Linked DNA regions of Homo sapiens. The protein of the gene in region 3 purifies or fractionates together with the protein of the main gene of each other region. This does not show direct contact. Each region holds a gene or a part of one and is shown on either strand. Other genes may lie near its edges. The genes, in order: MYO9A, MYH14, UNC45A and SLC27A2.

Region 1 (7,023 bases), about 19 Mb from region 3:
TGTCCCATCATCTTCTCAACTCCCGGCAGAGAGGAGACCCTGGGGTGGGCACCTTTTCTCTGCAACTGGCAGGTGGTTGTCTCCCCAAGTCTGGCTGAGTTCAGGCTTTTATAGGTCTCAGCAGGGAGGGTGTGTGTACTGATTGGTTCATTGACAACCATGGGTGAGCCTGGAGAAAGCACCACAAGTTCCCACTCTGGTCATCGGGTGCCAATGGAAAGCCTGGTCCCCAGGCTTCAGGCCTTCCCTGGCTTGAAGGTGGGGTTTCACCAGGGACCTGCCTCCTTTTGCCCAGGAGCCTGCCTGCCTCCTCCTGCTGTTCATGGTGCCCAGGCTGTTTGTGACAGGGGGTGCCTACAGGTACTGAGCTGCCCTCAGTACCCCCTCAGCCTCCCTCTAGTGTTTGTAGGCACCCAAAGTTTAGAGGGGGCCAAGGTGGCAGGGGGCTGGTGTATCAGTGCTATCTGGAGCGTGTGCACACTTGGCCAGGCTGTGACAGTGCCCAGTCTCGGACCCAACCTTTCTCTGAGATTGGAGTGGGTGCTGGGAGTGAGGAGAGGCCAGGCAGTGGGAGCAAACACCTCTGAGCCTGCAGGGACTGGGCGGGGGGCCTTCCTGGGCCTCTGAGAGTGCAGACATGCCTGGGTCTGCAGCTGCAGCTTGGGCGGCTGCAGCTGTGCCTGGGAGGGTGGGGCTCCTGCCTGCTCCCATCCCCCAAGAGCACAGTGATGCCTGGGTCTGCAGCCCACCTGGGCAGGTGGCCGCAGCTGCACCTAGGGAGCACGAAACTCCTGCCCTGTCAACTCAGAAGGTGGCAGGGTTCCCACCTGTTCCTGGCTTCTGCTGCCTCCATGGAGCACGCAGTCCTGGCTGCACCTCCCCCACTGCAGCTGGTATCATGGCAGTGGCCGCTATAGATGGGCCGCTGCTGCCATCGGTGGCATGCACTTACAGTCCCAGCTACTCGGGAGACTGAGGCAGGAGGATCACTTGAGTCCAGAAGGTTGAGGCTGCAGTGAGCCATGATTGTGCCATTGTACTCCAGCCTGCATGACAGAGACAGACCCTGGCTCTATAAAACAAAAACAAATACAAAAACAAAACAAAACAACAACAAAATAAAGTGAGTTAATGGAAAAGGAGCTGTAGGAGTGAGTCAGAAAAAGAGCAAGACTATCAGGAAGACTACAAGAAAAATAACTATGTGAGTACACTTTCAAGAACTAGAAATTGGCTGCTTTAGTCATGCCATAGTGTGGTGTGTTAAAATGAAGAATGAGGAAAGACCTTTGGATTACCAACTCTGTGGAATTTTGTGACTTCTCCGGAGCATTGTCAAGTAGCTTGCTATGTGGGAAGAGTGGTAAGGGAGTAGAAAGTGAGTTCCCAAATATTTGGGAATATGGTGATTTTCAAATACTATTTTCTGGACCAGCAATAACAGAATTACCTGCATTTCCTCAACTCATAACTATTGTTGAGCCTGGTAATGTACATTTAAAAAAAAATTTTGTTTGTTTGTTTGTTTATTTATTTATTTATTTATTTAGAGACGGAGTCTTGCTCTGTCACCCAGGCTGGAGTGCAGTGGCATGATCTTGGCTCACTGCAAGCTCTGCCTCCAGGGTCCACGCCATTCTCCTGCCTCAGCCTCCGGAGTAGCTGGGGCTGCAGGTGCCCACCACCATGCCTGGCTAATTTTTGTATTTTCAGTAGAGATGGGGTTTCACCATGTTAGCCAGGATGGTCCTGATCTCCTGACCTCGTGATCTATCCGCCTCGGCCTCCCAAAGTGCTGGGATTACAGGTGTGAGCCACCGCACCCGGCTGGTAATGTACGTTTTGAAAAAGCTCCCCAGATGATTTTGATGAAAGCTCATGTCTCGGATTTGCAAGTACAGATTTTCCAAGCTGTTTAGTAAGGACTGGCTTGTGATCAAGATGGATTTCTGAGTGGTATTTTGAGACAAACCCTCCTTTTTGTAAAAAAAAAAACAAAACAAAAAAACCCACAAAGCAGTAATTGATAAAATAACAAAGATAAAACCAAACTGACAAAACTAGGACTCAAAAAAGGTAAACACTTCTGTTTCAGGAAGGAGCAGGTGTGATTTTGGCTGCTTTGAAGTAATGGGGAAGTGTAATTAGAGTTGGGCTTATTGTTGGAAACAGTGGTCCAAGATAGGACTCCTGTTAAAAAAGATGTTTCTAAGTTTACTTCCAGGGCTGCCATATTATACAACTTTAGGGATTAGATTGTAGTTACTTAGTACAGTGGTCTTTAACCTTTTTGGCACCAGGGACTGGTTTCATAGATGAAAATTTTTCCACAGATGGGGTAGTAGGGGATGGTTTTGGGATGAAACTATTCTGCCTCAGATCATCAGGTATTAGATGATTAGTTAGATTCTCTGGCATTAGTTAGATTCTCATAAGGAGCATGCAGTTTAGATCCCTTGCATATGCAGTTCACAATAGTGCTTAATGCTTCTATGACAATCTCATGCTGCTGACGATCTGACAGGAGGCAGAGCCCAGGCAGTAATGCTTACTTGCCTGCTGCTCATCTTCTGCTGTGCGGCCCAGTTTCTGACAGGCCATGGACTGGCACTGGTCCATGGCCCAGAGGTTGGGGACCCCTTAACTTAGTACATCTCCTGGAGTGGTACAGGTCACAGCCTCCCTGGCTGTAAGAAGATTTGCTGCTGACTGCTGCCAGATGCCATAGCGTATATGAAGCAAACACTTAGGGATTCAGGAAAGCAAACATAGCTATACAACTAGGAACCTGGTAACTCAGAGTATATCCTCACTGTTATTGCAGAGCAGAATCTCCAGCTAGACTATCTGTAAGAAAAATATTTATGAGATAACTGAGGAAATTTGGAAATTTGAATATCAATTGATCATTTAATACCAAAATTTTTAATTTTTAAAAATATATTTATGATACTGTAGTTCTCTTAAAAAAGTAGTAAACATGTTCTCAGTAAGTGTTTGTATGAAAAACAAAAGAAGTTCCATCAAAAGTGCACTTGTAAAGCTAAATTCTCAAATATATGAACTCATCTCATGCTAAGGAAGATATGAAATAACCATAAGAGCAGTTCCGTCTGGATGACATTTCAGTGTTAGTCTGAAAAATATTAAATTACATACTGAGGGTTTTCAAAAAGAAAAGGAGTAATAGCCCTTAAGTATAAATAATTTTGAAATGTAAATCGGCGGAAAAAAGATGAGGTGGATTTGAAAATGACAAAAACTTTAGAAGTGAAAAATATAGTTGTAATTTTTAAAAGCCAACAGCATGGTGTTCATGAATGAGAAGAGTCAATTAGATGTCAGTTCTGTCCAATATTAATCTGTAAAGTCAATGCAGTATTAAAATCTGAAAAGGTTTTTTTTCACGATAGTAAACATGCAAACTTAAACATTTTTATGGTAGTGTAAATAGCCAAGGTAAAATTTGTAAAGAACAACACATTAAGGTAATGTGCCCTTCAGATACCAAAATTTATTATAGGACTGTAGTAATTAACAGAGGTTCAGGGGTGGAAAAATAGACCTATGGAACAGACTATAGAGCCCAGAACAGATTGATAGGTACAGATCCATAGATGGAATCTATTTTCAGTATGCTATGAGATAGGACTGTTAATTTTCTTCACTCCAACTCAGATTAGCAATTGAACCAGTACCACAGTGAATAGTTTGTCCTTTCCTCACTAGTTTATTTCTTTTTTAATTTTTTTTTTTTTTGAGACAGTCTCATTCTGTCACCCAGGCTGGAGTGTAGGGGTGCGACCTCAGCTCACTGTAACCTCTGCCTCCCGGGTTCAAGTGATTCTCCTGCCTCAGGCCCCTGAGTAGCTGGGATTACAGGGACGTGCCACCATGCCTGGCTAATTTTGTATTTTTAGTACAGACAGGGTTTCACCATGTTGGCCAGGCTGATCTCGAACTCCTGACCTCAGGTGATCCGCCCGCCTTGGCTTCCCAAAGTGTTGAGATTACAGATATGAGCCACCACTCCTGGCCTATATGGCTGGGTTTTTTTTATATGTTTTGTATTAATCTCTGTGTTTGAAAGACCATCTAGGCAAACAGGAAAAAATAGTTTCTTGATTAGAAGACTTTGACAAATATGTAGTAGTATGAGAGGATAGATAGTACCCTGGGCAACATGGTGAAACCCCATCTCTACTAAAAATACAAAAATTAGCCAGGCAAGGTGGCGCACACCTGTAGTCCCAGCCAGGTTGAGGTGAGAGGATCACCTGAGCCCGGGTGATGGAGGGTGCAGTGAGCCAAGATCATGCCGCTGTACTCTAGCCTGGGTGACAGAACAAGACCCTGTCTCAAAAAAAAAAAAAAAAAAAAAGGAAGTAACTGAAAGTATTTCTTCTTATTATTTTTTTAATAGCACATCATCCTTATATGTTAAAGGATGAAATAAATAAGGTAAATATTGATGACACATGAGAGTAGTTTTTTGGGGGCATATAACTAACTAATGAAGATAAGAAACAGGTTTTATCAGCCCTGGAAAGTGTGTGGGGCATATTTTCTCAGTAGAAGACAGGAATGGAATAAGATAGATGAGGTAAAGATAGGAATAAATTTTGAGTTGGAGAAGCCATTTGAAGGAAATCACTATTTTCTCAGTGAGGTATAAAAGTTGAAATCATTCTTCTAGAAGTGTAATATACTGTATACGAGGTTCGAGAAGATGGGAAGAAAATGCAGAATACTTGTAAGGAATGCAATAAATAAGGTTAGGTAAAAAGATATAATGGTAGCATTGAAGGAAAAAGGGAAGCTGAATAAAATTTGTAGTGGTGCCTAGTTGTATAATTGTGTTAAATTTGCCTAGCAAGTCAGGGGCAGGATTCTTTTGTCACTCTTGCCAAACTCCCTTCTCCTTCCCACCTTGTGGGAGGGAGTGAGTCAGAGCCTAGAATTCCTTGAAAATATATGTCTATCTCCTTAGTTGGTTTCTCTCATCATTTTCTTGGTTTTATGTAATTTCTATGTTTATCTATCTTCTTGCTGTTTTTAACAAATTTTACAAAATTTTTGCTCCATTGTTGGGATGCTTTCTTGTTTTTGCTTTATCCTTAAGAAATTTTGGGTACAGGGCAATTAGATTTGCATGGTTATTCTGTCTTAATCCAGTCTTTGTTAAGTATAAGGAAAGAACTTGGTTCTAATCCCAAGTTCCTTACAAACATTTGAGACAGCAGGGGAAAAATAATTTTTCTTTGTACTCTTTGGATTTTTGTATAATAAAACATTGAAATATATGTTTTTTTTGGCAAGTTACTATTTTAGAAAGTGCCTAGATTTGGACAGTGAAACTTAATATTATGTGGTCTCAATGAAACTGTTGCTGTGCTAAGACAAGAGTTAGTATTTTGTGTTTTAGAAGATGTAATCAACATGCTTGTTAAGCTTTTCTTTCTTGAGCATCAGAAAGCAATGTGTATTTACTTCTAAATATTTTGCATCTTTTATGTTACAGTTATTTTACCAAGAAAATGGTTTGCACGACTTTGAACATATACTATCCATGCTGATGGGACAGGATCCAATATGAATATAAATGATGGAGGAAGACGACGCTTTGAAGATAATGAACATACATTACGGATATATCCTGGGGCTATTTCAGAAGGGACAATCTACTGTCCGATTCCTGCCAGAAAAAACTCCACAGCTGCTGAGGTGATTGAGTCTCTTATAAACAAACTTCATCTTGACAAAACAAAATGTTATGTTCTAGCAGAGGTAAAGGAATTTGGTGGAGAAGAATGGATTCTCAATCCAACAGATTGTCCAGTTCAGCGAATGATGCTGTGGCCCCGAATGGCTCTGGAAAATCGCTTAAGTGGAGAGGACTACCGCTTCCTTCTGAGAGAGAAAAACCTTGATGGATCAATCCATTATGGTAGCCTGCAGTCATGGCTACGGGTAACAGAAGAACGTCGCAGGATGATGGAACGGGGTTTTCTTCCACAGCCTCAACAGAAAGACTTTGATGATTTATGTAGTTTACCTGATTTGAATGAGAAAACTCTCTTAGAAAACCTACGAAATCGCTTTAAGCATGAAAAAATTTATACCTATGTTGGCAGTATTCTAATAGTTATTAACCCATTCAAGTTTCTTCCTATTTATAACCCCAAATATGTCAAAATGTATGATAACCACCAACTGGGAAAACTTGAGCCCCACATTTATGCTGTGGCTGATGTAGCTTATCATGCCATGCTTCAGCGCAAAAAGAATCAGTGCATCGTGATTTCAGGAGAGAGTGGTTCTGGGAAGACTCAAAGCACAAACTTTCTTATTCACCACCTTACTGCTCTCAGTCAGAAAGGATTTGCCAGTGGAGTAGAACAGATTATTCTTGGAGCTGGACCAGTACTTGAGGTAAATATATAGAAATCTTATTTTTGATTTTAATTTTGATTTTTATCCTTTGAGGTGGGGGGGTGTACCATTCCTGGAGGTACTGCAATACCAGGTCGATGTGTGGAGTAGATCAAGCAAGATACTGTTCCATCTCCCAGCTCCAAAAACTCATTTAGGGCTGGGCGCAATGGCTCATGCCTGTAATCCCAGCACTTTGGGAGGCCTAGGTGGGTGGATCACCTGAGGTCAGGAGTTCCAGACCAGCCTGACCAACATGGAGAAACCTGTCTCTACTAAAAATACAAAAAAAATTAGCCAGGCGTGGTGGTGCATGCCTGTAATCCTAGCTACTCGGGAGGCTGAGGCAGGAGAATTGTTTGAACCTGGGAGGCAGAGGTTGTGGTGAGCTGAGATCATGCCATTGCACTCTAGCCTGGGCAACAAGAGCGAAAATCCATCTCAAAAAAAAAAAAAATTGTCTTTGGATAGAAGACATTTCAGATATTAAACTATAAAAACATAACTGTACTTGATCTTAGCCAAAAGGCTGAGAAGCTATAGAAATACTGTTCTTGCTATTCTGGGCACACTGCCTGCAGCGTAGCCCTG
Region 2 (7,892 bases), on a different chromosome or scaffold from region 3:
TCCCATCCCCAAGCCCAGCAGCTCCAGCTTCCAGTGACTCTTGGCCCTGAGGCTCTCAGGCCTCAAACGCTGGACCCTTGCACTCTGAAGGCAGCAGGGAGTTTCTCCACCCCGTGGCCCCCAAATCGTCAAGGCTCACCCCATATCTCCAGTGTGACCTGGATACACCGGACCCAAACTCCATCCCTGGGACTTTACCCTCACCCCCACCCACCCCACCCCACCCCATCCACTTCCTCACCAGCCCTGTGGCCTTTGACCAGGAAGGGTTTCGGAGTTTTTGCAATCACCCTATGCCCTATGCCTCTCCTCCCTGGAGCCAAGAGTCCAAGCCCCCAGCCCTTTCCTTCCCCAGGCTGAGGAGTCCGAGCTCCCAGCCTCCTCCTCTCCCAGGACCCAGGAGTCTGAGCCCCCAGCCCCCTCCTCCTATGGATTGGGAAGTGCAGGCCCCCTCACCTCACTGCAGCCGGGCTAGAGGTGAGGATGCTGAGTTCTGAAGATGGATCACAGCCCTGATGGGGCGGGCAGGGCCTGCAGGCCTTGGCTCCAAGTGGCCGAGCCTCTCTGACTGCCCTACCCTTCCTCAACCAGCAGGAACACTCTGCCAGGGCTAATTACTGTCACCTGGGCAGGTGAAAGCACCTGCCCTGGGAGGGGCCGAGACTGCTGGGCTTGAAAAAGAAAAGCAGCCAGGGATCCGCCCTGGGGCAGAGGTTGGGGCCCTTGGCATCCAGCCGTCTGACCCTGGCTTCTAGCGCTGGGTTTCCGGAGTCCCAGTACTCAATGCCCTCCTGTCTCAGACCCAGGAGTTCAGGCCCCCAGCCCCTGCTCCTACAGACCCCAGAATCCGGGCTTGCAGCCCCCTCCTCCCCTAAGACCCCAGCTCTGCAGTCCTGGCCCCAGTCCTTTCCTCCCCCAGGACCCAGAAGTTCGGGCTCGCGGCGCAGTCCTTCCTCAGACCTGGGACAGCCGGCCCCCAAGGCCCCTTCTCAGATCCAGGAGTCTGAGAGCCCCGTACCCATTCCCCTGGACCCAAGCGCCTGTGTCGCCGCCCCCTCAACTCGCAGATCCTCGGGGCTACCTGGGGGCGCCGACCGGAGCGGGGAGATGGGGTGAGGGCGCGGGAATCCCCGTTCTCTTCAGGTGCAGCGACCTCCGCGGTCCAGCGCAGGGCGGGGCCCCGTCGCGTCACAGGGCGGGAGCCCGGCTCTGATGTCACCCAGCACCTGCCCGGCTGGGAACGGGGCGGGCCTGGAGCTTCAGGGCCTCTGACGGGGGCCGGGGGAAGGCGGGGGTTGAGCCTGTTGCCAGGTGGGCGGCGGCGGCGGCGGCGCCAGGGGCTCCTCCCCCTTATGGAGGGCAAAGGTCGAGGGCCCGCCGCGGAGAAGGCTGAGGATTCCCGGGATTCAAACCCCGCTGGAGCTTCCTGGGCCTCAGCTTTCCCTGCTGTGCATTGCGGCCAGTGAAATTAATAAAACGACGTTCAGAAAGTTCCCCAGCCCAGTGCTTCATCATTAATCTCCCTGAGCCTCAGTTTCCCAACTGCGGGAAGGGAACAACAAAATCTATAGACAGTAAGAGTACCAAAGAAGAGGACAATGGTATTCTGTCCTGAGCTTCAGTCTCGGGAGTGAAATAAAGACTACATGGTGATAAGAGTACCTACTATGTGTCGGGTATTTTCTCCTCTTAGAACAGCTCTTTGAGATCATAAAATGATTTAAAAAAAAAAAAAGAGGGAGAGACAGGGTCTCTCTCTGTTGCCCAGCTTGGAGTGCAATGCCACGATCATGGCTCACTGCAGCCTTGACCTCCTGGGCTCAACCGATCCTCCCTGCTCAGCCTCCCGAGTAGCTGGGACAGCAGGGTCACGCCACCACGCCCGGCTAACTCTTTTACTTTTTGTAGAGACGAAGTCTCGCTGTGTTGCCCAAGCTGGTCTCGAACTCCTGGGCTCAAGCGATTCTTTCGCTTCCACCTCCCAAAGTGCTGGGATTACAGGCCTGAGCCACTGCGCCCGGCCTAGAATAACCTCAACAACCAATGACATAGGGGTGATCAGCATGTCCATTTCTCTGATGTGGAAACTGAGGCAGGAAGGGTCAAAGTAAGGCACTCAAGATCACACAGCGTAAGAGGGAGGTCTGGAATTCAAGCCTATACCGTTTTCTGCCATTCTAAAGGAGGGGGTCTGGAAAGAACTTGTAGCAGGTCCCTAAAGACATGAATTTCTGCGTCCCAGTTGGTGATTACTACCAACCTGCTTCCCCATCTATGCCACAGGGACCACCGCTTTCCTTAGGGGACTCCTGTGGGACTGAAAAGGTTAAAGGACCCAGCACACAGTTGGTCTCTGGAGTGTTCTTCTCCACCAGGTCCCCCTGCAGTCACCAATTCGGCCCAGTCTCAGCCTTCCCCTCTCTGTATAATGGGTACAATATAACTCACCTCGAGTCAACACGATAAGGAAAGGAAATTATTTAGTTATAAAAAATAAAAGCGTCCAAGTACATCATAGGTTCTCAAATATGTCCTTCCCTACCCCTCCGCCTCTTCCAGTCACGACCCCTCTCTCTGGCCTCCGATTCTGACACGTGAGAACAGAGACATGTCATGCTGGGGGCGGGGGACTGGAGGCGATGACTCAGGTATTAAAGCGGCCGAGGTTCCAAAGACAGCCTCAGTTTCCCCTTCTGCGGAACAGGCCCGGGGCTGACAACGAGGACCCCGACCGGGCCTCGCACACGGCGGCAACTGGAGTTGGGGGAGTGTAGACGTCCCGCCCCCCCACCTCCCTCGCCGCCGTCCCGCTGCGCGCCCAAGGTGAGTGTCCGCGTCACCTCCCCGCCGTCCCCGGCCGCCTGCCCGGGCTCCCGGGCCCCGATCGCAGCCCCCAGGCTCCAGCTTCCCCTGGCTCAGTCCCGTTCCGCCGCCCCCGGAGGGCTGCCGGCCCCGGGCACTCACCGGCTTCCAGGGCCGTCCCGAGGCTTCGGCCTGGGGAGAAAGAGGGGCGTGTCCGCCAGGACAGCCCCGCCCCCAAGAGAGCAGCAGAGGCCAATCGGCGCCCGCTGCGGCAAGCTACGGCCCCGCCCCTGGGGGACGGGAGCCGCCAATCAAAAAGAGCGGCTGGCGGGCTGGGCCAATCAGAAGTTGTCGAAGGGTGCCAGCCGTGGGAAAAGAACGCGGCCCGGGCGCGGAGCTAGGCGGCGCGGTCGGGGGTGGAAGCCGAGGCCTGATGGGCACGGGGCGCCACCAATAGCGAGGCGCGGGGGGCGGCCGGGGGCGGGAGGCCCAAGGGGCCAGGGTGAATGGGCCGCTTTGTGCGCAAGGCATGAATGGGGGCCTTTGTAAGGGCCGGCGTGGGGGGGCCGACCGAAGGCCGGAATGCCTGGGTCCCCCGGGACCCGGCGGGCAGGAGAGACAGGAGACAGAATTCACTTTTGTCGAACGTAGACCATGTACCAGGCACCCTCCCAGGCTCTCACCCACCGGGGAGGTGTGGGCCGTGATACTATCGGAATAACAATGATCGTTTATCAAGCACTTCGATGTAGACCGGGAGCTGTGCTAAGCGCCTTACCTGCATGATCTCATTTAATCCTTACAACGAAGCCCTTGAAATTGGTGCTATTAAGATCTTCATCTTCTAGATGAGGTAACCCCAAGCTTAGAAAGAGGGTGTTAATTGCAGAAAGTCACAGAGCTGGCCGATGGCAGAGCAAGGACTCAGATCCAACCAGAAGTTGTGCTTTTAACCGCCATGCTATGCCCAAACGTGGTAATGATTCCCCATTTACAATTTACAGATGGGAAAACTGAGGCTCAGGAGAGCCAAAAGACTTCCCAAGGTTGGAAGGGTGCCGTGGCTCACACCTGTAATCCCAACACTTTGGGAGGCCAGGGTGGGAGGATCACTTGAGCCCAGGAGGTCAAGACCAGCCTGGGCAACATAGGCCCCATCTCTATTTAAAAGGAAAATAAAAAGAGCCAAGGGCACAAAGGAATGGCTCCACTGAACCCAAGGAGGCCTGCCAGCTTGGCTCGGCTGCTCAGCAGCTGTGTGGGCTCAGGCCAGTTGCTGGACTTTTTTGAGATTCCATTTATTTCTGCACTCGTAAAATGGGAGTGATGGACTGTCTGCCTTCACCCTTGCTCTCCCTACAGTCTACTCTATTCAGATGGGGCCTTTCCTCTGTTCAGAGCCTTCCATGGCTCCCATTTCACTCAGTAAAAGTCTAAGAACTCACCATGGCCAATGAGGTCCTGCGGGATGTGGCTGGCCCTTTTGCTCTCTCTGATCTCACCCCCAGGCCCTCCCCTTCATACTGCTCCAGCTACACTGGCTCAATTTCTCAAACCAGGAGGCCTGGTGCTGCCCCAAGGCCTTTGCATTCTCTGTTGGGTCCACCAGGAATGCTCTTCCCCAGGTTTTGCATGACAACCTCTCTCCCACATCATCCGTTCTGCTCCAATATCACCTCTTCCAAGAGGCCTTTCCTGGCCATCCTATATAAGACAGTTCCTCTCATCACTCTCTCTCGTTTAACCCCGCTTTGCTTTTTCTCATAGCACTGGGAGTGTTTGCTAATTTATCTGTTTATCATCTGTCTCCTCACTAGAATTTAAGTCCCACGAGGACAAAGATCTTTATTTTGTTCAGTGCCGAATCCTCAGTGCCTGGCACACAGTAGGTGTTTAATAAGTGTTTGTTGAGTAAATGGTAATGAGTGCTTGTATTGAGTGGATTAAGTGAATTAGTGCCTACAAAGCTCTTAGTACAGTCCTGGCACCAGGGAAAAGGCTGAATAAGAAAGTACTGGCCAGGAGCGGTGGCTCACGCCTCTAATTCCAGCACTTTGGGAAGCTGAGGCAGGCAGATCACTTGAAGTCAGGAGTTCGAGAGCAGCCTGGCCAACATGGTGAAACCCCGTCTCTACTAAAAATACAAAAATTATCCAGGCATAGTGGCCCACGCCTGTAATCCCAGCTTTTCGGGAGGCTGAGGCAGGAGAATCACTGGAACCCAGGAGGCGGAGGTTGCAGTGAGCGGAGATAGCACCACTGCACTCCAGCCTGGGTGGCAGAGTGATTCCATCTCAAAAAAAAAAGAAAGAAAAGAAAAAGAAAATACTGATTATCATGACTATTGCCATTTATTGTCCTACAAACAGCATGCAGGAGAGAAACTATATACATACGAAGTCTAGCGTACGAGCAAGAAGCCAAAGAAATATGAAAGGAAATGTTGGGAGATAAGAGATGGGCAGAAAAGAGACAAGAGAAGCTGGAGTTGGGTGCTGAGGGCAGACACAGATTCAAGCATCCAACTCCCAATGCACTTGCTCAGCAACAGCAAAGGTGAATCACAGGACCATCCCTGTGGTCATAGTGTCAAGATTGCCATGGCTTTGAGATTGCCACAGCCACCTTCCACTTCTTTGCAGATGGGGAAACAACATCCTGGGGAGAAAAGGACCTTTCTGAGAGTACTCGCAGTGATAACACAGCTCACAGTTGTGAGGTCTGATTGTGTGCTGGAAACATGACTGTCATTATGTCAGTGCATCCTCATGCCAGCCCCGTGAGGCTGGCATGGTCATTACCCCACTTTATAGGCTAGCAACATGTCCAGGGTCTCCTGACTACTGCTAATGGCGGATCTGGGCTCCAACTCCTAGGAAACAGGCCCCTGCAGGCATCTGTCTTAACCAAGACAGAGCTGAGGGCTCCTGTCACTCTGGCTGGAGCGTGCTCCATGGAAACATCCTACAGTAAAGATAATGAGTGCTGCTGTGTATGGAGTGCTGACTGTGTGCTGGACATTTTGCCCTTTTATGTATTAACTCATTGGATTCTCTCCACAACCCTACGAGGCTGGTGCTTTTATTATCCCCATTTGATGGATAGAAAACTGAGGTCCACGCCAGGCACAGTGGCTCACCCCTGTAATCCCAGCAATTTTTGGGGCTGAGGTGGGAGGATCACCTGAGGCCAGGAGTTTGAGACCAGCCTACCCAACATGGTGAAACCCTATCTCTACTAAAAATACAAAAATAAGCCAGGCATGACAGTGGGCGCCTGTAGTCCCAGCTACTTGGGAGGCTGAGGCAGGAGAATTGCTTGAGCTCGGGAGGTGGAGTTTGCAGTGAGCCAAGATTGTGCCATTGCACTCCAGCCTGGGTGACAGACTGAGACTCTATCACAAAAAACTCAAAAAAAAAAAAAAAAAAAAGAGAGAGAAGAAAGAAAGAAAGAAAGAGAAAGAAAGAAAAATTGAGGTCCAGAGACATGAAAGTCCTGTTCCCAACGGTGCTAGGAAAGAGTATGGACTGGGACACAACAGAATTTCAAACAGGAAAGAAGGCACTGGGCACCCACATTTTAACTATAATCTGCCTGGTAACTGGTGATGTCATCAACACTACCCAGGGCTAGATTTAGCCTGGGATTACCCAGGTAGATTTACCTGGCAACTTGTGATATCATCATGCCCACCAGGTTCTAAATTGACCTCATAATTGGAGATGTCATCAATTCTGCTCAGTCTATGAGGTAATTGATGACATCACTGAGTGATAGTAATGAGCTTTCTTTTGCGGAGGGCATTCTATGTGGTGGACGGCTGTATCAGCATTTTGAAAGTTGCTGGTATTTATTGAGTGCTTACTGTGTTCCAGGCACAGTTCTAAGCCCCTTCTGTGTGCTAAATCCTATAATCCTCCTGATAACGCTAAGTGGTAAGTTCTAATGTCAAACCCATTTTACAGATGAGGACACTGAGGCACAGCTGACCAAGGTTGCACAGTTTAAAGGTGGCAGAGCCTGCATTCAAATCAATGTAGTCTGCACAGTTTAAAGGTGGCAGAGCCTGAATTCGAATCAATGTAGTCTGGCTGTAGAGCTTGGGCTGCACAAAGCCAGCAGAGGGAGGCTGAGACCCAGAAAATCAAGTCCAAAGGAGGCACTCCACTGCCTCTAAGTTCTCCATCTGTCCTCCATCCAGGCCTGCCAGAGAAGGTCCTCAGGATAAAGCCCCAAACTCATTATCTCAGGGATCAAGGCCACCCCGTCAGCCATCCCTCTCTGAACTCCAGGCACTGGGATCATTCACATTAAATTGTGAGTCCTTGGCTGTCCAGGGCTGACCCCTCTGTGGGTCCTGTGGGTATCAGCTGCAGCAGAGAGGGAACCCAGACAGTGAAGGGGGATGGAATACCACGACGGGTGTGTGCCGGGGAAAAGGAAAGGGGAATATGGGGGCATTCTGAGCCTCCAGGGAAGCTGGATTCCCACCAGCTGGCACAGCCCCCAGACGTGACCTCGTTATGCAGAATCTGAGTAAGGAGCAGCACAGGTGTGGGGAAAGCCAGCAAGGAACTAAGCTGATGAAAACAAAAAGCTGTCAGCACCAAAAGACAGGGTGAGAAAAAAAGAAAAAGAAGATAAAAAGTTGGAGCTGAAAGGGGAAGAGACGGGAGAACCAAGGACAGGGCAGCTTTGTGGAAGAGAGTTTGGGGGGAAATTTTGAGCAAAAAAAATTAGGGAGCAGTTTCCATGCCTGATGGAGGGAAAGGGGCCTGAGTCTTACTAGAGCAAAAGGAGGAAGAGGGTGCTAAGTTTTGCCATGGGTCCTGACTGCAATCCTGCCTGGGCATTTTCTCTGCAGCAAAGACTGGAATGGTTCCAGTATTTTATTTTTGGTCGCTGGGCTGTTGTTTTCCTGCATGTGACTCGGAGCTGGAACTGGCTCTGAGACAAGAGCAAGCTAGCAACCCCGTGTGGGTCACAGATGAGTGACAGGTTCAGTTCTGCAACAATTATTTTTTGAGTGCCTACTGTGTGCCAAGAATTGTTCTAGACCAGGGGTCAGCAAACTTCTTCATGTAAAAGGC
Region 3 (7,023 bases):
TACGTATATTTTTAAATTAGGAGAAAAGAATCTAAAGACCATTATGAGCTACAACCAAGCTCAAATTCGCCAGATAATTTGACGTTAAAATGCTGACACAGTGGAAGCAGATAACATGATGGCAGACACCTCACTGAAATGTTGAAGCCTGGGAAAGCAAATAGGTTTCCTCTCTCAATGCCAACTCTGATTGGCAGTGGCTGCCCAGAGTCCTATGTTGAGAAGAATTAGGAAGCAGATTGCCTGAGCCAAGCAGGGGAACGTGCCATGACTGGTTAGTCATGGCTGCCATGGATGCAAGAGAGGAAGGCGGGTGGTCCACATGCTAGGCTTGTGCCACCATCTATGCCCAGGACTCTGGGGGGTGGGGGAGTAGGCCTAGGATGATCTTCCCCATTCAGATTATTTATTTATTTATTTATTTGTTTGTTTTGAGACAGTCTTATCCTGTCACCCAGGCTGGAGTGCAGTGGATCTCTGCTGACTGCAACCTCCACCTCCCAGATTCAAGCGATTCTCCTGCTTCAGCCTCCCGAGTAGCTGGGATTACAGGCACCCGCCACCACACCTGGCTAATTTTTATATTTTTAGTAGAGACGGGGTTTCACCATGTTGGCCAGGCTGGTCTCAAACTCCTGACCTCAGGTGATCTGCCCACCTCGGCCTCCCAAAGTGTTGGGATTACAGGCGTGAGCCACCGTGCCTGGCTTCAGATTTTATTTATTTATTTTTTTGAGACAGAGTTTCACAGTTATTGCCCAGGTTAGAGTGCAGTGGCGTGATCTCGGCTCACTGCAACTTCCGCATCTTGGGTTCAAGTGATTCTCCTGCCTCAGCCTCCCGAGTAGCTGGGATTACCGGCATCTGCCACCACGCCCGGCTAATTTTTTGTATTTTTAGTAGAGATGGGGTTTCACCTTGTTGGCCAGGCTAGTCTTGAACTCCTGACCTCAGGTGATCCACCTGCCTTGGCCTCCTAAAGTTTTGGGATTACAGGCGGGAGCCACTGCGCCCAGCTCAGATTATTTTTAAAACAGTGAAAAGAGAATTCTGGAGCTAAAGGAAGTGTTAGCAACTACCTCACGATCTGCCAGCTCCCTGGCAGGAGGTATAAATGCTGAGTTCAGTGCCATGGGAAGCCCATTCACGCTGCCACAATGTAGATGGCACCACTGGGAGTGGGTTGCCTCGTAGCTGACAGGATACCTCCCCTCCGAAAAGGCACTCCAGCATCGGCGCAGCCCCTGCTGCCCAAGCAGGAAATAGCTCAGAAAGAAAAACAGGTGCGGGAAATTTAGGAGGCACTGCCAGGCAAGTCTCTTCCTGCCCAGGGTAGCTAGGTGCTAGCCCTGAGCCTGGACATCTTTACTGTGCCTCCCAGAGTGAGGAGCTGGAGACAAATGAATAGGGAGTGTGATGTCTCTGGCCAAGAGCCGTGATTTGTTCCATGCTTTGTTGGTTTGTCTAGGTGCGATACATGTCCTCGACGGATGCCAAAGTGGAACAGATGTTTCAGATACTGTTGGACCCAGAAGAGAAGGGCACTGAGAAAAAGCAAAAGGTATAGGCCCTGGGCTGAGTCAGTGAGTGAGCTCCCACTAGAGCCACCCATCCATAGGCCCCCGAAGCCACTGCTGCCTTGCTCTGCCGCTCCTCCAATCGTGCAGCTGGGCTCACGGGGCCTGGATGGGAGCTCTGAGGGTCTGGGGCTTTAGCGTGAACCAAGGAAAGAGAACCAGTGTTCACAGAGTACCTTGTTGGCCACGCCCTGTGCCAGGAACTGGGTGTACAGAGGTAACTGAGGCACTGTCCCAGCCCCTCAGGCTCTGCTGGGGACTCATTTGCTCTAACCATCAATCCCGAGAGAAGGCTCTTCCCTCTATTTACAGAGGAAGCTAAACTTCAAAGAGGTTATTTTTTGGCCGTGGTCACTCAACTGTGAAGTGGAAGCAGAGAGGTCCAGGGCTCGGGGCCCCTGCTCACCAGTGCTGCATCCTATGCCGTGTGCAGTGTCAACATTATAATGTGCTTCCTTTGACGCAGGCTTCTCAGAACCTGGTGGTGCTGGCCAGGGAGGATGCTGGAGCGGAGAAGATCTTCCGGAGTAATGGGGTTCAGCTCTTGCAACGTTTACTGGACATGGGAGAGACTGACCTCATGCTGGCGGCTCTGCGTACGCTGGTTGGCATTTGCTCTGAGCATCAGTCACGGGTAGGTGGAGTGGAGAGGCTGGTTACAGCTTCAGTCCCTTTGTCTGTCTGTCCATCCATTCCTCCATCCACCCATCTGTCCATCCGCCCATCTGCCCGTCCATCCATCCATCCACTCTTCCACCCTCTACCCCTTACCTTATTCTAAAAAGAACTTAGGTAGGTTATGGTGCCTCACACCTGTAATCCCAGCACTTTGGGGGGCTGAGGCAGGTGGATCACTTGAGGTCAGGAGTTCAAGACCAGCCTGGCCAACAAGGCGAAACCCTGTCTCTACTAAAAATAAAAAAATTAGCCGGGCATGGTAGTGCACGCCTGTAATCCCAGCTACTCAGGAGGCTGAGGCACGAGACTTGCTTGAACCCAGGAGGTGGAGGTTGTGGTGAGCTGAGATCGCGCCACTGCACTCCAGCCTGGGTGACAGAGCGAGACTATCTCAGAAACAAAACAAAACAAAACAACAAAAAAAGAAAAGGCAGAGTACAAGGAGATACATGTAACAAGAGAGAAAAAATAAAAATGGCGTGAAAAAGACCAACATAAATTAGGATGAAGTGGGGTAGAAAGAGCAAAAACAGCCTTGGGGTACCCCAAGCACTTGCTTTGTAGGGGGCTTACAAGTGTGAGCCCCAGCTTTCCTGCAGCCAACTCACAAAAACACATTGGTCACTGACTCCTTCAATGTCCATATGGCACAAGCAAGCTCATGGCCCAGAATGTGCCTGGCCACCACAGCATCTACCATCGAGACAGTGACCGGACACGTAGGGCTTGATCCCGACATGATTCTCAGCATGGATGGTGGTGGCCCAGCATGGACAGTGCAGCAATAACAGTCCTGCTCCTGGGCCAGTGTGGTGAAGTCCATGCCCCCAGCTCTTACCTGAGCTGGCTTGCTCCAGGGGAGAGGGGACCAAAGACTAGGCCCTTGGTTGCTTTTAGAGGAGCCCACAATTCCTAGATAGGGGTGAAACTGTGAAATAGTCAATGAAATCTCTTTAGGCTAAGCTTGGGCTGCATTCTGGGTCTCCCAAGGCTAAGACTGTTAAAAGCATGTGCATTCTGTTCCCTCCTGCCTTCCGGTCCATTCCAGTTCACAGTCTTGGCCAAGGACACTTAGCTGCTAAGTGGAAGCAGTCAGGATTTGGGCTCAGTGGACCAAGCAGGCCTTCTAGGGTTCTCCAGCTTAGAAACAGGGTGGAGAGGGCCCGGCGCGGTGGCTCATGCCTGTAATCCCAGCACTTTGGAAGGCCGAGGCGGGCAGATCACGAGGTCAGGAGATTGAGACAATCCTGGCTAACACGGTGAAACCCCGTCTCTACTAAAAATACAAAAAATTAGCCGGGTGCGGTGGCGGGCGCCTGTAATCCCAGTTACTCAGGAGGCTGAGGCAGGGAAATGGCGTGAACCTGGGAGGTGGAGCTTGCAGTGAGCCCAGATCGCGCTACTGCACTCCAGCCTGGGCGACAGAGCAAGACTCCGTCTCAAAAAAAAAAAAAAAAAAGAAAAAAGAAAGAAACTGGGTGGAGAGGTCTCACGGGCCCATTCCGTGTACGTGACGTCCACATCCCCAGGGTGTGGAAAGAACCTCAGGGTTTAGACTGGGGAAGAACTAGACCATTAAGCCTGGTGGTCAGGTAGCTTCGTCTAGGTATAGGTCTTTTTCTTGGGGAGGCATGAGCTAAGGCAGCTGCTCCCAGGGCTGCAGTATACTATGTCTTCTCTGGCACCAAGGAGAGGTAGTAGGGCATTGCCGTGTAATGTCTCCTTTAGGAAATCTTTCTAACAAAATTATCCTGCCATTACCCTGGGTCATGCCATCCATTCTGTGTTGTTTTCACCTGGAGCTGGGCCTTCCACCCAATTCTCTCCTTCTGGCCGTATCCTCTAACTCACAGTTAGGGATCTCTGTGGCTGCCCTTCAACAACTGGAAGCTTCCTTCTGTTTACCTCTCCCACCCCAGACAGTGGCAACCCTGAGCATACTGGGAACTCGGCGAGTAGTCTCCATCCTGGGCGTGGAAAGCCAGGCTGTGTCCCTGGCTGCCTGCCACCTGCTGCAGGTTATGTTTGATGCCCTCAAGGAAGGTGTCAAAAAAGGCTTCCGAGGCAAAGAAGGTGCCATCATTGTGGGTGAGTGGAAGCAGGTCTGGGGTCTTTTGGACGTTACTGTCATGGAAGGGATGGGGCTGAGCCAGCCAGGCCAGTTTTTTGGGGACCAGACTTGCAGCTGCAGGTTGTTTGGAATACGGTTTGGTGACATTATTTTACTCTAGATTCTCAGCAACCAAGGTGCCTCAGGACAAAGCTGGAGCTCAGTCTGGAGCCTGGGATGCGGATCCCCCCTTCCCTGTGTCTCCCTGGTTTGTTGGAGAAGTTGAAGGGTCAAACTGGGCTGGGCTGCTGTGGAGCCCACTGATGTCTTCTTGTTGTTGCCAGATCCTGCCCGGGAGCTGAAGGTCCTCATCAGTAACCTCTTAGATCTGCTGACAGAGGTGGGGGTCTCTGGCCAAGGCCGAGACAATGCCCTGACCCTCCTGATTAAAGCGGTGCCCCGGAAGTCTCTCAAGGACCCCAACAACAGCCTCACCCTCTGGGTCATCGACCAAGGTAGGTGATATAGTTCACAAAAACTTGCTTCAGCAGCTGAAGTTTGTTTATTCTTAGGAGTAATAAGAAAAGTTGTGAGTGGGGCCAGGCATGGTGGATGACACACTTTGAGAGGCAGGGGGTCACTTGAAGCCGGGAGTTTGAGATCAGCCTGGGCAACATAGCGAGACCCTGTCTCTATGAAAAATTAAAAAAAATTAGCTGGGCATGGTGGTGTGCATCGGCAGTCCTAGCTACTCCAGAGGCTGAGGTGGGAGAATTACTTAACCCTGGGAAGTCAAGTCTTCAGTGAGCTGTGATTGTACCACTGCACTACAGACTGGGCAACAGAGGGAGACTGTCTCAAAAAAAAAAAAAAAAAAAAGAAAGAAAAGTTGTGATTATCTCCAGCCACGTGTCTGCACTGAAGTGCGTCCTGTGGCCCAGGAGGATGCTGGAGCTGAGAAGATCTTCCAGAGCAATGGGATTCAGCTCTTACAACACCTTCTAGACACAAGAGCTACCCTTAGGGGGCTCAAAGTTAGACTCTTCTATCATATGCGTGTGCACATACATGCACATTGAGCGGGCCTGCAAGCAGGTTAGCAGAGAGGCTGGATTAGCTTTCTGTATTTTTTTTTTTTTGAGACAGAGTCTCACTCTGTCGCCCAGGCTGGAGTGCAGTGGCGCGATCTCAGCTCACTGCAGCCTCCGTTTCCCGGGTTCAAGCAAATCTCCTGCTTTAGCCTCCCGAGTAGCTGGGATTATAGGCACGCATCAGTATGCCCGGCTAATTCTTGTAGTTGTAGTAGAGATAGAATCTCACCATGTTGGCCAGGCTGGTCTCGAACTCCTGACCTCAAACAATGCACCCACCTTGGTCTCCCAAAGTGTTGGGATTACCGTCATGAGCCATTGTGCCCTGTTTTTTTTTTTTTTTTTTTTTTTTTGTTTGAGTGAGCATGTATTACTTCTATACTCAGAGGAAAAAATAACGGTAGATATATCAATTCATCTCTCTTTTCCCCTAAAAGATAAATAAGAGCTGGGCGTGGTGCCTCACGCCTATAATCCCAGCACTTTGGGAGGCCGAGGTGGGCAGACCACAAGATCAGGAGTTTGAGACCAGCCTGGCCGACATGGTGAAACCCCGTCTCTACTAAAAGATACAAAAAATTAGCCAGGCATGCTGGCATGCACCTGTAATCCCAGCTATTCTGGAGGCTGAGGCAGGAGAATCACTTGAACTCAGGAGGCGGAGGCTGCAGTGAGCCGAGATCGCGCCATTGCTCTCCAGCCTGGGCAACAGGGCGACTCTGTCTTAAAAAAAAAAAAGATAAATAAGAAAAGCTTTGCAAAGGCCTTGCATGAGCAGGGCCTTTCACAATGGTCCTATGAGGTGTGGATATCGTGTTCACAGTGGTCCCACGAGGTGTGGGTATCGTGTTCACAGTGGTCCCACGAGGTGTGTCTATTGTGTTCACAGTGGTCCTACGAGGTGTGGGTATCGTGTTCACAATGGTCCTATGAGGTGTGGATATTCTTTTCCCCTTAGTTTTACAGATGAGGAACCTCAAAAGCTCCAGAGCGTTTGGCCCCAGGGGCAGGGCTGGCATGCAGGCCTCACTTCTGAGGTCCTTCCCGATCCTACAGCCGCCTCCCTTAGGTAGCAGATCAGCTAAGCAGATTCTCCGGGCTGCCCTGGACACAGTTGTCAGAACTCTGTAGCCTTCTTGTCTTGCTTTTCTCCACATCTCCTAGGAAGCCTGTTTCTTTTACTTGTAGGGGTTGGAACTAGTGTTCTACTGTCTAAGCGGGGTGTCTTTACAGGTCTGAAAAAGATTTTGGAAGTGGGGGGCTCTCTACAGGACCCTCCTGGGGAGCTCGCAGTGACCGCAAACAGCCGCATGAGCGCCTCTATTCTCCTCAGCAAGCTCTTTGATGACCTCAAGTGTGATGCGGAGAGGGAGAATTTCCACAGACTTTGTGAAAACTACATCAAGTAAGGAAGTCTGTTTCACCTCCCGTTGCCAGGGATTCTAGCGAAAAAGTTCTGACTCCTTGAGGAGGGGCAGAAATGAAAGGTTTCCAGCAGAAACAGTAATCTTGGGGAGGACTAGTTGGAGGCTGAACAAAGGGAAAGTGGCCCCAAGGCCCACTTCCTGCTCCAAAGTGGCCTCCGCAGGGAGGTTCTTTCTCAAGTCAATGTTCCAATAATGCAACA
Region 4 (7,023 bases), about 41 Mb from region 3:
TACCCTCTTCCCACCCAGCTAACAGTTGTCTGCCATAGAGCTATGTGTTTACATAGAGAATATATGGGAATTTCTATATTAAACTCAAACGTGAACCAGACTTTACAGTGGACCTAAGGCACTCTCTGGACCGTCAACTGACCTCTGAGGGAGGCCACATATTTGAAAAAAAATCAGTTTTTCCAAATCACTGAGATACCTTTGCACATGAAGCAAAATTACAGTCTGTCACAGAGTTGCATGTTTACTAAACATGCCCATGGGAAAATATGTTGAATGGACTGATTCTTAGAATTCTTTGGTGTTGGAAGGGACCTTAGAGATATTCTAACCCTATAATCCTGTAAGTTTAATGAATGTGTTATACTTTAAAAAAAAAAGTTTACAGAAGAAACTTTAATAAGCCCAAGAATCACCTAGGAAGCTTACTTTTTTTTTTTTTTTTTTTTTTTTTTGAGACGGAATCTCGCTCTTTCGCCCAGGCCAGGCTGCTGTGGCGTGATCTCGGCTCACTGCAAGCTCCACCTCCCTGGTTCACGCCATTCTCCTGCCTCAGCTTCCTGAATAGCTGGGACTACAGGCACCCGCCACCACGCCCGGATAATTTTTTGTATTTTTAGTAGGGGCAGGGTTTCACCGTGTTAGCCAGGATGGTCTTGATCTCCTGACCTCGTGATCTGCCGGCCTTGGCCTCCCAAAGTGCTGGGATTACAGGCGTGAGCCACCACGCCTGGCCGGAAGCTTACTTTTAAAAACATTCTGAGGCTGGACACTATGGCTCACTCCTGTAATCCTAGCACTTTGGGAAGTGGAGGAGGGAGGATCACTTGAGCCCAGAAGTTCGAGACTAGCCTGGGCAACATGATGAAACCCCATCTCTACAAAAAAAAAAAATACAAAAATTAACTGGGCATGATGGTGAGCACCTGTGGTCCCAGTTACTGGGGAGGCTGAGGTGAAAGGATTGCTTGAGCCCGGGAGGTTGAGGCTGCACTGAGCTCTGACTGTGCCACTACACTCCGGCCTGGGTGATAGAGTGAGACCCTGTCTCAAAACAAAAAAATAAAATTTCTGAGATCATCCCCAAAAATGCTGATTCAGTAAGACTATGTTGGGGCCCAGGAATGTGTATTTTTATAAGAAACCCCACCGCCAACCCTAGGTGATTTTGAAACAAATGGTCTGAGGACTAGGCTTTGAGAAACAGTCTAGTTTCCCATTGTTTTTCATTGTTGTTTGTTTGTTTGTTTGTTTGTTTGTTTTTGAGACAGTCTCGCTCTGTTGCCCAGGCTGGAGGTGCCGTGGCGCGATCTCGACTCACGGCAACCTCCGCCTCCCAGGTTCAAGCCATTCTCCTACCTCAGCCCCTCAAGTAGCTGGGACTACAGATGCCCACCACCATGCCCAGCTAATTTTTGTTATTATCAGTAGAGATGGGGTTTCACCATGTTGGCCAGGATGATCTCCATCTCTTGACCTCGTGATCCACCTGCCTCGTCCTCCCAAAGTGCTGGGATTAGAGGCGTGAGCCACTGCTACTGGCCTTCTCATTGTCTTATAGCTGTATAAACAAAGGCCTAGAGGGATGATATGAATTGCCCATGATCAAGTGGATAGTTAGGAACAGAAAGGTAGAGATAGAACCCAAATATTTTTTTCTCACTTACGAGGCACTGTTTATTCTATCACACCATCTTGAACATGATACATAAATGTCAGTTTGATTCCATATTTTGAGTTTCAGCCCAGGGCTTGTGGACTAGTAAGAGCTCTTGAGCTCCATCTGTCAGTCAAATTCTGCAGTATATGTAAAGGACCAGCACAGAGGCATTTATCATGAGGATTGATCCAGTTGTTATGAATTTGGGGGTTTCTTTATAACACTTAACAGGACTCAACCCTATCAGGAATTTCAGTACTCAATTACTCTTTTCAATTTTACTATAGTTACAGAAAGTCAAGACTCATAAACACTTCCCTGAATCAAGCAGCAGCACTGTTTCCCAGAGAATATGACTTTCTCTCTGTTGTACATTTCAGGATCGTTCTCCAGGGCAGGGTATGATCTAGGTAATCACATGGGAAAATTGTCTCCAAGGATAAGAACCTGTATCAATGTTGTAACTAATAAAAGCCACATGGCTGGGCCAGTAGTTTTTCACCCAACTTTCCAAATACAGAATATGGGTAAAACAGTAAAACATATTTTATTTCACACAATATGGGATATTTTATAAAAACCTACAAAAGAGGCCTGAAATTGTACATTTGTTCCATTTCCATTTATCCTAGCATCAAGACCATCAATAAACTAGCTCTTCCACTGGGTAGATAACCCAGGTCTCCTGAGGGTCCCTTCATCAGCTCACTGGCAGGGTATACACTGCCTAACTCAACACAGCCATGCGAGGCTCCCACAGTGTAGGCACTACTCTTATGCAAGGCTTTAGTAACAGTTAAAGATACTCTCTGTTGCAAAACTGAGTCCCAGGTAAGTTATAAAACGTTCCAGATTACCTTTGACCTGGTTTTGCAAGGTTGCAGAAAACAAAATTTGACCTCCTTTAAACAATGTGATAAAGGAAAAATGCTTACAATAGCTTTCAAAAATATTGCATCATTAAAAGCTATAAGACTGAAGAACTTCATTACAAAACAAGTGTTGGGACCAAGGATAACCCTTGTCATCCAAACTTTTGAGATTAGATTGAGAAAAACTGATGGTACAACAATTTGATTTTCAAAGCAAGAAACATTTAGAGGGAGGAGAGGCCACCAAAAAAAAAAAAAAAAGGAGAGAGAGTCCCAACAAGGTACAAGCTAGTTTTCTCTGTGCCATGATGGGATGGAGAAATAAGATGAATTAGTTCAAGGATCTTACAGTCCAGTAAAAGAACTAAACCGCATGCACAAATGATTGTGACACCCAGTAGAATGTGCTCAGTGTGCTGGGAGGGCTACAAGTGCTGCAGGAAAACAAGCAGAGGTCAAGAGAAGGCTTTTTGGGGCACTGACTATTGAGCTGAACAAATGCAGTGGGGGAGGGGGCATTCCAGGCAAAAGGAGCACCAGAGGCAGTTCTGATCAGGTGCTTAAAACAGTGAGATGCTTCATTAAAGGATATTGCGATGTAAGAACAATGGCAGTCTGGACCTAATAATAGTCATTTTTTTAAGCTGTTTCCTGAAGGGACAGGAAATGGAAAAAATAGGGACTCAGAGAGTCCAAAGAATGGCCAACAGCAGTGGCCTCACTTCCACAGAAGGAAATATTTAATTTTCTAATGCCAACTTTAGTCCAGAATCAAGGCACAGAAATAATCTAATCTACACTCTTCCCAACTCTTTGGACTGCCCAAGGAGTAACTTAAATGAGTTGTTTCAATGCACTTTGTCTCAAAGGCTTAGAATTCTCTCATATATCTTTGAATAATTCCCTAGTAATGTCTAGCACATAGTAGGCAGGCAGTCAATAAGTGTCTGTTGGGCAGGGCACGGTGGCTCATGCCTGTAATCCCAACACTTTGGGAGGCCAAGATGGGCAGATCACCTGAGTTCAGGAGTTGGAGACCAGCCTGGCCAACATGGCGAAACCCTGTCTCTATTAAAAATACAAAAATTAGTCGGGCATGGTGGCGGGCATCCGTAATCCCAGCTACTCCGGAGGCTGAGGCACAAGAATCACTTGAACCTGGGAGGTGGAGGTTGCAGTGAGCCAAGATCACACTACTGCATTCCAGCCGGGATGACAGAGTGAGACTGTCTAGATAGGTAGATAGATAGATAGATAAATAGATAGATAGATAGATAGATAGATAGATAGATAGATAGATAGATGCATACAAACATACATACATACATACATACATAATGGATAGATAATGTCTGTTGAATTAATGGGTTCCATTATTCTGGTTGATTGTGACAGGCTTTCTCTCCTGAAGCTTAAGGACCACTGGGTTGGGCATGAGGGCCTGAAAAATGATGTAACAAAATCAGATGTGAAAAAATCCATTTAAACTCAATCTACCCCAGGCCCAGCCTTACCCTACCACAGGCTTACTTACCTCTCAAAGGTCCTCCTAATCAATGACTCTGTCCAGCTCTCTGGCAGTACATGGTAGGACAGCGGTGCTCTCCTTGGGTCTCAGTGCAGCAAGTAAGCAGGTGGTGAGCACAGGATGGGCTGGAAAGGACCTGTGAGTAGGGTGGTGGAGGACCCTGTACAAGGACAGAAACCCAGACACCAAATGATTAATATATCCAAGGGCTGGGATTCCCAGCCTAGTAGCCCAAGGAAAGATAGCTTAAAGATATTCTCTAAGATTTTTCTTCTCTCCCTGCTCTTAACTAAAGCTTGCAAAGGAGGTGATTGTACATCTCCATCCAAGAACAAAACTAGCACTTTGCTGGCATATATGGGAATGCACTTTATTTTCTTCAGAAACAGGGACTGAAGAGGTAAAAACAAACTCTGAATCAGGTGTTGTTATTGAATCTGAAAGAGAAGGATAGAGTTCAGATTATTCTATATAATAGGTGCTAGTATTTGAAAAGGACCTTCCCACAGCCTCTGAGAAAAGGGAAGTAGATCATTGGTAGAAAGATGACATGGTTGCTTACAGATATCAAATGCTAACAATTATGTAAGGCCTTATGTGACCTGGTAACTCATGATAAGGAATTACCTTTGATTCCAGGGCTATTTAGAAAGCAAGAGTTCATATAAGCAAGAACTTTAACTTGGAGAAATAAAAATTAACATCAAGGAGATTACTACTTAATTACCTAAATGTAAAATGAGTATGTATTTCCTTGTTAAATTTTTGCTTACTCCTGGTGGAACTTAAACATTTTTATGACCTCCGGGTGATTTGTGTGGGGAAGAAGGAGGAGCACATGCATGTCTCTCTCTCTATATATAGTATTATAATGTGCATCATCTTGCTGTACAAAATACTGTCATTCCAAACTGCCAATGATTGAGATGCAAAATTACAGTTACAAATGGCATTTTAGGAACTATTTTTAGGTTGTCTTCAAGGACTATGTTATTAATAGCACCAGTTTGCATTTCAGTTGCTTTTCTGAATGAAGAAAAGAGATAAATCTTCAAGCTTGACTTGCTCATCAACCAACCATTTCATGATCAGAGTACATTTCCTTTCACTACCTTCCTTTTGGACCTTACCTTCTTGGTAAATATTTCTGGGGTGTTTTGTTTAATCCAGTCAGTTACTCATTCACTGAGGCAGTCTAGTAGCAGAACAAGCTACTAGACTGAATGTTTTCCTATTGGAAAGCTGCAGGTTTAGCCTGAGCACCTGACACCTTAGTAATGAAGATTGATTCAGCTCACCACCTACCCAATCTCTCTGCCTTCTAGCAATGGACTTGTTTATTCAGAAAATTCTTCCTTTTTCCTTAAAAAAAAAAAAAAAGGCAGGGGCAGACTTAATATGCTACCTTAATTTTTTAAAATTTTCTTTGAACAGACTTTAAAGGGGATGGGGGAGTAGTGTTGTAATCACTTGATTTTTCAACACCCAAGTGTGTGCTCTTTCTCTGTGGGTTTATTTCAGTCTACAACTTAAAACTAGACTGATGAAGAACCGACTGATGGAGCTGCTCTACACCCTTCAGGCAACTTTCTGTGACCACTGTTTCTCATACTCAAACTTTTAATAAAGCTTGAGGTTTTGCTCTTCAAGAAAAGATCATCCATGTTACTCATTAAATGCAGATCCACATGATTGAACAAGCACTGAGCAGAAGGCCAAGCAGCCAGCCTCTTCCAAGAAATAAGGCACTTTGCTAGAACTTAATCTGAATGGCTCATACAAGGAGGTGGGAACCTCAGAAGCCCAGAATGATTCTTTTCATTTTGCATGTGACCCTCCATACACTGACTTGGTGAGCCTCTTCTCATTTGTAGAAATAAGATTACTGGTATCTATATCACAGAGTTGTTATGAAAATTATGTGAAGTGATGTATGTAAAACTATACCAACAGTTCTATGCAAATGAAAATTTTAAATGTTTGTTATTAGTAAAGAGAGAGGTGGGTGCATGCTCTGATGTGCCACCCAGATCCCTGCTTTAGGACTGACGGACTCACTCTTCAGCTGCTGGGAGCTCTCAGCTGAGACCTCTCCCAGGACTTCTCCTTGGTTGAAGAGAGACACTTTGCCCAAGGTTAAGCACCACCACCCCAGCCTGAGTCCATTGGACTGGTCAATGGGCAGGTGTGAAGGCACAGCCTACCTCCCTTAATTTAGGAGGTAACTCTGAAGGGCATCCCAGGTCCAGAGTCCCCTTAGGATTAGAGGATCTGCTGAGGGAGACTTCTGTTGTGACTGCATTACAGTTCAATGTCTCCCTCTATCCAGTCTGCTTCCCTTGCAGCCTCACAGGTCCCATTCCCAAGAGCACTCCTGCATGCACATCTCGGAGTCTCAGAGAACCCAACCTTGACAAATAGAATTATAGGAGCTTACATGTTCTGATTGATAGATGAGCAGACTTTACAATAAAAATTATAAAAGGTAGATAGATATTTTATGCTTGCATTAGAAAATATGTAGGCCAACCAGGCAGTGGCTCATGCCTGTAATCCCAACACTTTGGGAGGCCAAGGTGGGCGGATCACTTGAGGTTGGGAGTTCAAGACCAGCCTGGCCAAATTGGTGAAACCCCATCTCTACTAAAAATACAAACATTAGCCGGGCATGGTGACAGCCGCCTGTAATCCCAGCTACTCGGGAGGCTGAGGCAGGAGAGCCGCTTGAACCCAGGAGGCAGAGATTGCAGTGAGTTGAGATCACGCCATTGCACTCCAGCCTGGATGACAGAGTGAGACTCCATCTCAAAAAAAAAAAAAAGAAAAAAGAAAATATGTAGGCCCAAACATATCTACAAAAGACTCAAGAAAATAAAAGACATTAAATATCAACTAGATAGTTGACAGGTAGATTCACATCCAGAATTTCCTTTCAAATTTCTTTTTTCTTTCTACATCTTTAA

What was found.
Region 1: the proteins of UNC45A (region 3) and MYO9A purify together in Homo sapiens (affinity purification with mass spectrometry; 2 studies listed by BioGRID and IntAct, with this or other methods). This does not show direct contact.
Region 2: the proteins of UNC45A (region 3) and MYH14 purify together in Homo sapiens (affinity purification with mass spectrometry; 2 studies listed by BioGRID and IntAct, with this or other methods). This does not show direct contact.
Region 4: the proteins of UNC45A (region 3) and SLC27A2 purify together in Homo sapiens (affinity purification with mass spectrometry; 2 studies listed by BioGRID and IntAct, with this or other methods). This does not show direct contact.

The regions. Positions count from the first base shown.
Region 1 is NC_000015.10:72,045,133-72,052,155, reverse strand, and holds part of MYO9A (unconventional myosin-IXa), read left to right. Parts: intron 1-5,521; 5' UTR 5,522-5,592; coding exon 5,593-6,432; intron 6,433-7,023. UniProt on the Homo sapiens protein: Myosins are actin-based motor molecules with ATPase activity. Unconventional myosins serve in intracellular movements. Regulates Rho by stimulating it's GTPase activity in neurons.
Region 2 is NC_000019.10:50,198,744-50,206,635, reverse strand, and holds the start of MYH14 (myosin-14), read right to left. Parts: upstream 3,015-7,892; 5' UTR 2,965-3,014; intron 2,824-2,964; exon of another isoform or gene 2,660-2,823; intron 1-2,659. UniProt on the Homo sapiens protein: Cellular myosin that appears to play a role in cytokinesis, cell shape, and specialized functions such as secretion and capping.
Region 3 is NC_000015.10:90,938,263-90,945,285, forward strand, and holds part of UNC45A (protein unc-45 homolog A), read left to right. Parts: intron 1-1,468; coding exon 1,469-1,561; intron 1,562-2,043; coding exon 2,044-2,211; intron 2,212-4,174; coding exon 4,175-4,343; intron 4,344-4,649; coding exon 4,650-4,820; intron 4,821-6,629; coding exon 6,630-6,801; intron 6,802-7,023.
Region 4 is NC_000015.10:50,185,193-50,192,215, forward strand, and holds part of SLC27A2 (long-chain fatty acid transport protein 2), read left to right. Parts: intron 1-7,023. UniProt on the Homo sapiens protein: Mediates the import of long-chain fatty acids (LCFA) into the cell by facilitating their transport across cell membranes, playing an important role in hepatic fatty acid uptake.